Homo sapiens: one gene and its partner. The protein of the gene in region 1 interacts with the protein of each later gene in a biochemical or structural test. Each region holds a gene or a part of one and is shown on either strand. Other genes may lie near its edges. The genes, in order: PCP4 and DAPK1.

What was found.
Region 2: the proteins of PCP4 (region 1) and DAPK1 form a complex in vitro, tested with the Homo sapiens proteins (one large-scale study listed by BioGRID and IntAct).

Annotation. Positions count from the first base shown.
Region 1 is NC_000021.9:39,873,628-39,877,450, reverse strand, and holds part of PCP4 (calmodulin regulator protein PCP4), read right to left. Parts: intron 1-3,823. UniProt on the Homo sapiens protein: Functions as a modulator of calcium-binding by calmodulin. Thereby, regulates calmodulin activity and the different processes it controls.
Region 2 is NC_000009.12:87,696,665-87,700,487, reverse strand, and holds part of DAPK1 (death-associated protein kinase 1), read right to left. Parts: intron 3,482-3,823; coding exon 3,284-3,481; intron 1,833-3,283; coding exon 1,694-1,832; intron 372-1,693; coding exon 251-371; intron 1-250. UniProt on the Homo sapiens protein: Calcium/calmodulin-dependent serine/threonine kinase involved in multiple cellular signaling pathways that trigger cell survival, apoptosis, and autophagy.

The DNA of each region.
Region 1 (3,823 bases):
TCTCCCAAAGTGCTGGGATTACAGGAGTGAGCCACCATGCCCAACAAGGGTCTTAATGAAACATTCCACAGGGAAGCATTATTAACATTTCTCAGCTTCTCTGTGTGTGACGGGATGGGAGGCTGGGGGTGTCAGGGTGGAAGCTGGAATCCCTAGAAATAGAGTGGAAGACCTGATGAACAAAACAATGGCTTTGTCAAGATTTCTGTGGCTGTTCTTTTTTTACTCAAGGCTAATAAAAATATTCAGGACAATTTTAATTTAATAAATTACTTGTGCAAACCCTAAGTGGAATTTGGACAGGTTTAAAAGAAATTAGGTTGTATCCAGAAAATGAGAAATGTAATAGCATGGAAAATGTGGAAAGGAAACTTAGGTTTTCTCTGAAGAAGCTCTGTGATTCTGCACAAGATTCATCGTTGGACACTCAGTCCCCTATTTTAAAATGACCACTTTGAATGAAATGACAACGATGCCCTTCTCTGATTCCCTGAATTCTAAGTGGAACTATAAAAACGACAGCCTTTCTCAAGGTCAACCGTCCTTAAGCAGGCTGACATCAACTCAAGGAAGGGCAGAGCCACCATGTTCAGTGGCATAGGTTGTTCACAGCACAACTCCAGGCAGTGCTGTTGGCACAGACCACAGTGTCAACGGCACCTCTGGGGTTGTAAGGTGCTTCACTGCCACAAACACTCATGGTAAAGAAGACTTTAGAATTTCTATTTATATTTGTGTAGGATCTAAGATCAATTTAAAAATTAGGTTTCATTCATAGCTAATATCTGGATTGATAATGACATCATCACTTGGTGGGTAGGAAAGAGTAGGAGTCCCACAATGGGAGATTGTCCCAGACACACTGCCTGTTGACTTGCTCTCAGAATATCATCATGTGATACCTTGCAGTTCCTTATGTTCCATTAAGAGGATTTACAGATTATACAATCTACCTTTAACTAAACTAATCTTCCCACAGTAGGTAAGTGGCTTTTAAAATGTCCTATATAGTCACAGGCCACAACATAGATGAACCTTGAAGACATTATGCTAAGTAAAATAAGCCAGTCACAAAAAGACAAATACTGTATGATTCCACGCACAGGAGGTACCAAAAGTAGTCAAACTGATAGAGGTAAGAAATAGAATGGGTTTGCCAGAGGATAGGGGCGGGGTAATGGAGAGTGGTTGTTGAATGGGTGCAGAGTCTTGGCTTTGAAAGATGAACAAGTTCTGTGGACCCGTTTCACGACAGTGTAAATGTAATTAATACCGCTGAACTGTACACTTAAAAGTGGTTAAAATAGTAAATCATATATATATTATTTACTATATATTTAATATATATTTCAATTAAATATATATTCAGATTTAATTGAAAAATTCTGCATTAAATCATAGACTGAAAATAATACTAACACCATCAGCACAAACACCAAGGAAACGATAGAAGCACTAACTAAACCTTCTTTTCTTAGGATGTCTTCATGGGCACCAATACAAGCTTAAAAACCTCAGCCATCAAATTAGACTCAAAAAGAAGTACAGTTACCAAAAAGTCTATTGGAATTACAGATTTCCTTACCCTTCCTTTAATGATTAACTCTTACTATATTGGCATATTCGCATGTATACATAATTGTAAAATAAATAAAAATTTGTTGTGTATACATGGTCAAATTTTTTCCCTATTAAGGTACACTATCAAAAACTTGGGAGTATTGATATCCTTAGTCATTGTGGACACTATTCCATAGTTCTGTTATGGATCTGCAGGAAGATTGAAAAGATAGTTCCCAAAACATTGATATGCTAAAACAGACAGTTGTTGTTAGAGCAACCACAATTGTGGAAAGTCATAGAAGGCAAGAGGATAAAATCACGTCAAGTCACCCTTATTGTTTTAAGGAGAAGATCTCACTATGGCATAATGGTTTGAAGTTTTGCTTGTTGCTATTTCCACCTAAAACTCTCTGGAAGATGCAGAGTTATGATCTGTAAAGGAAGGCTCCACACCATCGCCCGTCTTGGACATGGGCAGACTTGTGGCAGCACCAGTGTCTGTGTGTATGCTGTCACCCCTCAGAGATGAGGAGACCAGCACCCAGGATGCTGTCACACAGCCACACTCAGCTCAAAATTTGACCCATTCATTGCATCAGAGATTTCTCTGCATAACAAAAAAAAAACTGTGAGAAAATTTACAATTTGAAAAAGAAAACCCTAAATACAATTAGTCATTTTGCTGGGTACAAGAAAAAAAAAAGTGATATTTCTCTAACAACTCCTAACGAAACAGTGGCTATTATTTAATAAAGAAATTGCACACAGTAGTTCCCCCTTAACCTTCCTTGGTTTCACTTTCTGAGGTTTGAGTTACCTGCTGCTAACCACAGTCCAAAAATATTCAATGGAAAATCCCAGAAATAAACAATTCATAAGTTGCAAATTGCACACTCTACTGAGTAGCGTTATGAAACCGCTTGCTGTCTAAGAACATGAATCATTCATCTGCCCAGCGTATCCACACTGTCTACACTACCTGCCCGTAGCCACTTAGCAGCACTTTCAGGTATTATCGGATGGAAAAAGCATAGCATGTGTAGGATTCGGTACCACCCACACTTTCAGCCATTCACCGGGCATCTGAAGATAAGGGGGAGCTACTGTACATAAGAATCATAAATTTTAAAGCAGGTGTAACCTTTTAACTAGGTTTTTTTTTAAAATACTAGAACTTAACCACCTGATGAACAGATGCTTGTATTGTTTTTTAGAAAAAAAAAAAAGATCTTGAAAAAAAAGGAAGAAATTATATTATTTCTCCCTCTTGTGTTTCTGTGTTTCCTTGTTATATTTTTACTCTTATTTGATTAAGACACATGTTAATGGGTCTTGTTAACTTCTGGAGTCCTTTTCTCAGAGGTCATATAAAATTAAAATAACCATTACTTCATTCGATTATTGACCAAAGCACAGATGTGGTGCTACGGGAACAGATGACTGTGTCTTTTGTCATGCCACTATACCACAGACTTGGATTGTTATACCAGGAATAGCGTGATCTCAAGCCAATCTGGATCCCATTTTGCTATCAAACCGTCGTAAATAATATTTAACATTCAAAAGTTGTCTTTTGAACTACGAGGAAGAGGTCTGACTCGTGTATGGCTGGAGACGTTTTAGTCTCATCCAAGTCCAAGACTGTCCTAAAATGGAGGGCAGAAACCTTGAAGAGAGGGACTCCCCTGCTCTCTATTCTAGCTCCTTTGTGAGGAAAATTGCCTTATTTGAATGGTTGGAACAGTTCACAGCTTTTGCTTCCTTGCCCTTAAATGTTCAATTTGTGGATGATTACCTTCCTGCTTTATGAGTCTAATTTGTCTTCCTTTCATTTATAAAATGGCAGGTTAAGAGTAAAATATAAAATAATGGCATTTAGTGGGTGATTGATTTTTCTACTGGCAATGTCATAAATATGGGCCAAGTGTTTCCCTTCCAGAAATGGAATGAGCAGTAAATTCAGTGAGATTCTGAAGCATAAATTCAGAGCTCTTTGTGAGGCATAAACAATATACAAGCAGACCCATGCCTGGAATGTGTGGCTTATGCTAAATTGTTCATGTAGAATGGCCCCAACATGAATGTGGCATTTATAGGTTTGAGCCATTGATGACTGTGGCAAGCTTGCTTTGTTTGTGGCACAAAACAATCCATTATCGAACATTCCCATATCTATACCCCAAAGGCCCTTGTGCCAGGTGACTGGAAAACGTTTCTGTATTCATTGTTCACATTGCACCTCATTTGAAAAATGGGAAGA
Region 2 (3,823 bases), on another chromosome or scaffold:
TGTTAAAGAAACCAATAAATCGGTAAGAATTTCATAAAATTGAAGTGGTCCACCTTGCCCATAATAACCCTTCAGCTCCCATCATCTCCTTGTTTCTCTATTCTTCCTTTCTTTTCCCAGGGCACTAGGATAAAGACATGTCCAGGCAGACACCTCTTACTGGGTCCTACTATGAAGCAGTTCCCTGAAACCAGAGGCAAACCAGGAAGGAAGTACAAAGGGGTCCAGGCTCTTTCCATGGTGTACTTACCGAAACAATCTGGCTTCGTATTTCTTGCAGATGATTTCGAAGTACCTTCATGTCCTTTGACCCAGAAGCCCCAGCATCCAGAACAAACAGCTTATTTGAAATGTGAAGATCATTTCCAAACCTAAGGGAAGAGCAGCAGCCTCCTCAGCAGTGAGTCAATGTCCCCAGGCCTTTTAATGGAGGGGCCAGGCTCCTACTGGCTCAAGAGGCTGGTAGGAGGGAAGGAAAGTTCTGGTGTCCTTGCAAAGGCCCCTCCCCATCCCTGCTGTTGGTGGGCTCTGCCTCATCACAGTGGGTGCAGAGACTTGGGGAAACTGGCATATAGTCTGAGTCATAGGAGCGGGACCTTCAGGTTTGCATGAAGCAGCAGGAGCACAGCATGGAAAGATGTCAGCTTCTCCCGAGGCAGGAAAGGTGAGGCCTAATGCTCGCACCTTACAAGTGAGGACAAGAGATACTGTGGAAAGTGGAGGGACTAAGAATAGAGGTGTGAATGCAAAAGCTACATCACTGACCTAAAAATATTAATAGAAGCCCCATTTTTATATCTGGCAACAGATATAGTGTCTCAAGACAATAGATAAATGTCTCAAGTTGATAATGCAAGATCAGAGATACTAGCATATTATAGAAAGCTGCAGGTTCAAACTGTTTTGATAGACTCTGAGTAAAAACATATATTTTACATCATAATCCTGTACATACCCATACTCATCAGTGAAACAAACGTTTTACAAAATAATACTTGACATCTGATCTATCCTATCCTGTCCTGTCCTTTCCTGTCCTATCCTATCCCATTCCATTCCATCCCATTTTAAAAAGAATTGGCCACGACTTCCTAAATGAATTTTAAGACTCACTAGTAGGTTGCAACTTATATTGTAAGACATACTGATTAGTGTTTCTGAACACTGAATACTGAGTACTGAAATCTAAACAGCTAAAAGAAGTCACCTCCGGGCAGTGTTGCTGGGAGGTAGAAAGAAGGGGGTTGCTTTCATCACGTGCTCTTCATTTGTATTTGATTTACTATGTGGATTCATTGTTTTAATAAAAATGAAAAATAAAGGTTGTGCATCCCTAATCCAGAAATCTGAAATGTTCCAAAATCCAAAAACCTTTTGGGCAAAGACAAGACATGCAAAGGAAATGGTTATTAGAGCATTTCAGATTTAGAATTTTTGAACTAGGATGTTCAACTGCTATGTATATGTACATATATTAAAATCCAAACAAATAAGAAATCAGAAACACTTCTAAAGCCGATCATTTCCAATAAGGGATACAAGACCTGTACAAGAAAAGAGTTGACCAAGAAAGAAAGACCTTTAAAACCTTTCTCTGGTTCATGAGACTTCCTTTGTACTTTTCACACCTCTGCTTCAGTTCTCAGGGAGAGGAGGCTACCCGTGAGCTGGAGACTAAGTGGCTGCCCCTCACCTGTTCCTAATCTCTTTCAGCAACGATGTGTCTTTGTCATATCCAAACTCGCCTCCAGCCGGTCGAGGAACATTCATGATGTCAGCGTGGGTGGCCACCAGGACAACTTGGAGTGGGTTCTTCAGCTTGCCACCGAAGGCTGGGGGCAGAGAGGGAACTGCTTCAGGGGGTGGGTCCTCCTACCTGGCTGCCTCTCCTGCCCAGGTGAGGGCGGTGTGTTGGCCTCATGCCCAGGCCGACTCTCCAGGTACAAGTGCAACATGCCACAGAGATGAAGGCCCCACGCCTGCTGTGCACTGTGACCCTAGAAGGCCCCAGCATGGCCAACGACAGGATAAGCCTATCTCCTAGGCCACAAGGAAAATTGCTCAAAGTGGACCAGAATGACTAAAGGCAGTTTCTCAAGTCTCCAAATAGCCCCTACTTACAAGGAGAGGGAAAATTTAACCTGTGACAAAAGGGATGCCGCTTACAAGACCAAAGAGAGACGCCTGAGTGCAGCAACACCACAGAGATGGGTCAGAGGTAAATGACCTGCAAGTCACACAAAGAGCCTCCCACTTCGGGGAGTGTTTAAAACAAAGGAAAAAAAGGACAAAGAAAGAGGCAAAACTGGCAGTACCCAGAGGGGCATTAAGCCCAACTCCTTGTATTATATGCTTTTCCGGAAAGAAAAAAAATTGACTGCTGAGTATTGCATTTCACCAGGGAAGGCTGCTTCTCTTGTTGTGGGCAAAGACCAAAGGAAGTTTATTTCATGTTATCCTCTCCTCTAGGAATAAAGTTAAGATAACACATTCAGTCAACATGCTCCCTTTCTTCATTTCTCTCTCTTTTTTTTTGAGACAGGGTCTCACTGTGTCACCCAGGCTAAGTGCAGTGGCACGATCTTGGCTCACTGCAGCCACAGCCTCCCAGGTTCAAGCAATCCTCCTGCCTCAGCCCCTGAAGTAGCTGGGACTACAGGCACATGCCACCACACCTGGCTAAGTTTTTGTATGTTTTGTAGAGATGAGGTTTTGCCATGTGGGCCAGGCTGGTCTTGAACTCCTGAGCTCAAGGCATCTGCCCACCTTGGCTTCCCACAGTGCTAGGATTACAGCCGTGAACCACTGCACCCGGCCTCTTTCTTTGTTTCTTAGTGGAATTACAGGATGAAGAACTGCTCATTCTGCTGACTAATTCTGTACCCTTTAGGTAAAGGTGCAGTAGCTATCCAAGCAGGGATTCCATTTTGCACCCAACATACAATGACCATGGCTCTCAAGTGTAGAAAAAAAGTGAGAAATGCCTCTCAAAGGATTGTTCAAAGTGGGCCTTTGAGGCAGGAATATGCAATCATGAAACAAAAACAGCCTGCAGAATACCACGAACACTTGAGCCTCATGAAGCTTCTCAGAGTGGAAGTCTCCCAGCAGGAAGGAGAAAGGAAGTTGGCTCAGCTGTTAGCCACAAACGGTGGGATCTGCTCATGGCCTGGTGCAAGGCCAGCAGCAGCAGTGGCAGGAGCAGGGCAGAAGCCTGGAAGGAGGAGGCGATTCCTGGCCAACCACAGGTAGGACATCACTGGCCTGCAGGGACTTAGCTCACCTATGGGTTCTTCAACTGGGACAAGGGACTTCAGGAAACTGAGCCAGAAAATCACTTGGTTCAGCTGGATCTCATAGGGCTCTTCTAGACTAAAGACAACAACATGGATTGACGTGGGATCATTTGCAGCAAAATAGTCATAACAGCAGAAATACACAGGATTTCCAGAGAACTCCCACACGCTGAAATCGCCAACTCCTACAGAAAAAGAAAAATGATAACAATCGTGAAACACCACTAACCAAATTTCAATCATAAATTCTCTTAGCGTTCCACGGATTCGAAGTAGGCATAGTGATACTTATGGCATTCTTCTGTATGTGTATACATCTTGTTATGACTTGGGTATGGTTTGTTCCCCACTAAAACTCATATTGAAATCACTCAGTGAGGTGATGTGGGAGGTGAGGCCTGGTGGGAGGTGTTTGGGTCCTAAGTGCAAATCCCTCCCAAATGGCTTGGTGCTGGTGGGAAGGAGTGAGTGAGTGAGTGAGTGTGTTCTTGCTCTTGTGAGAGTGGATTAGTTCTCATGGGAATGGA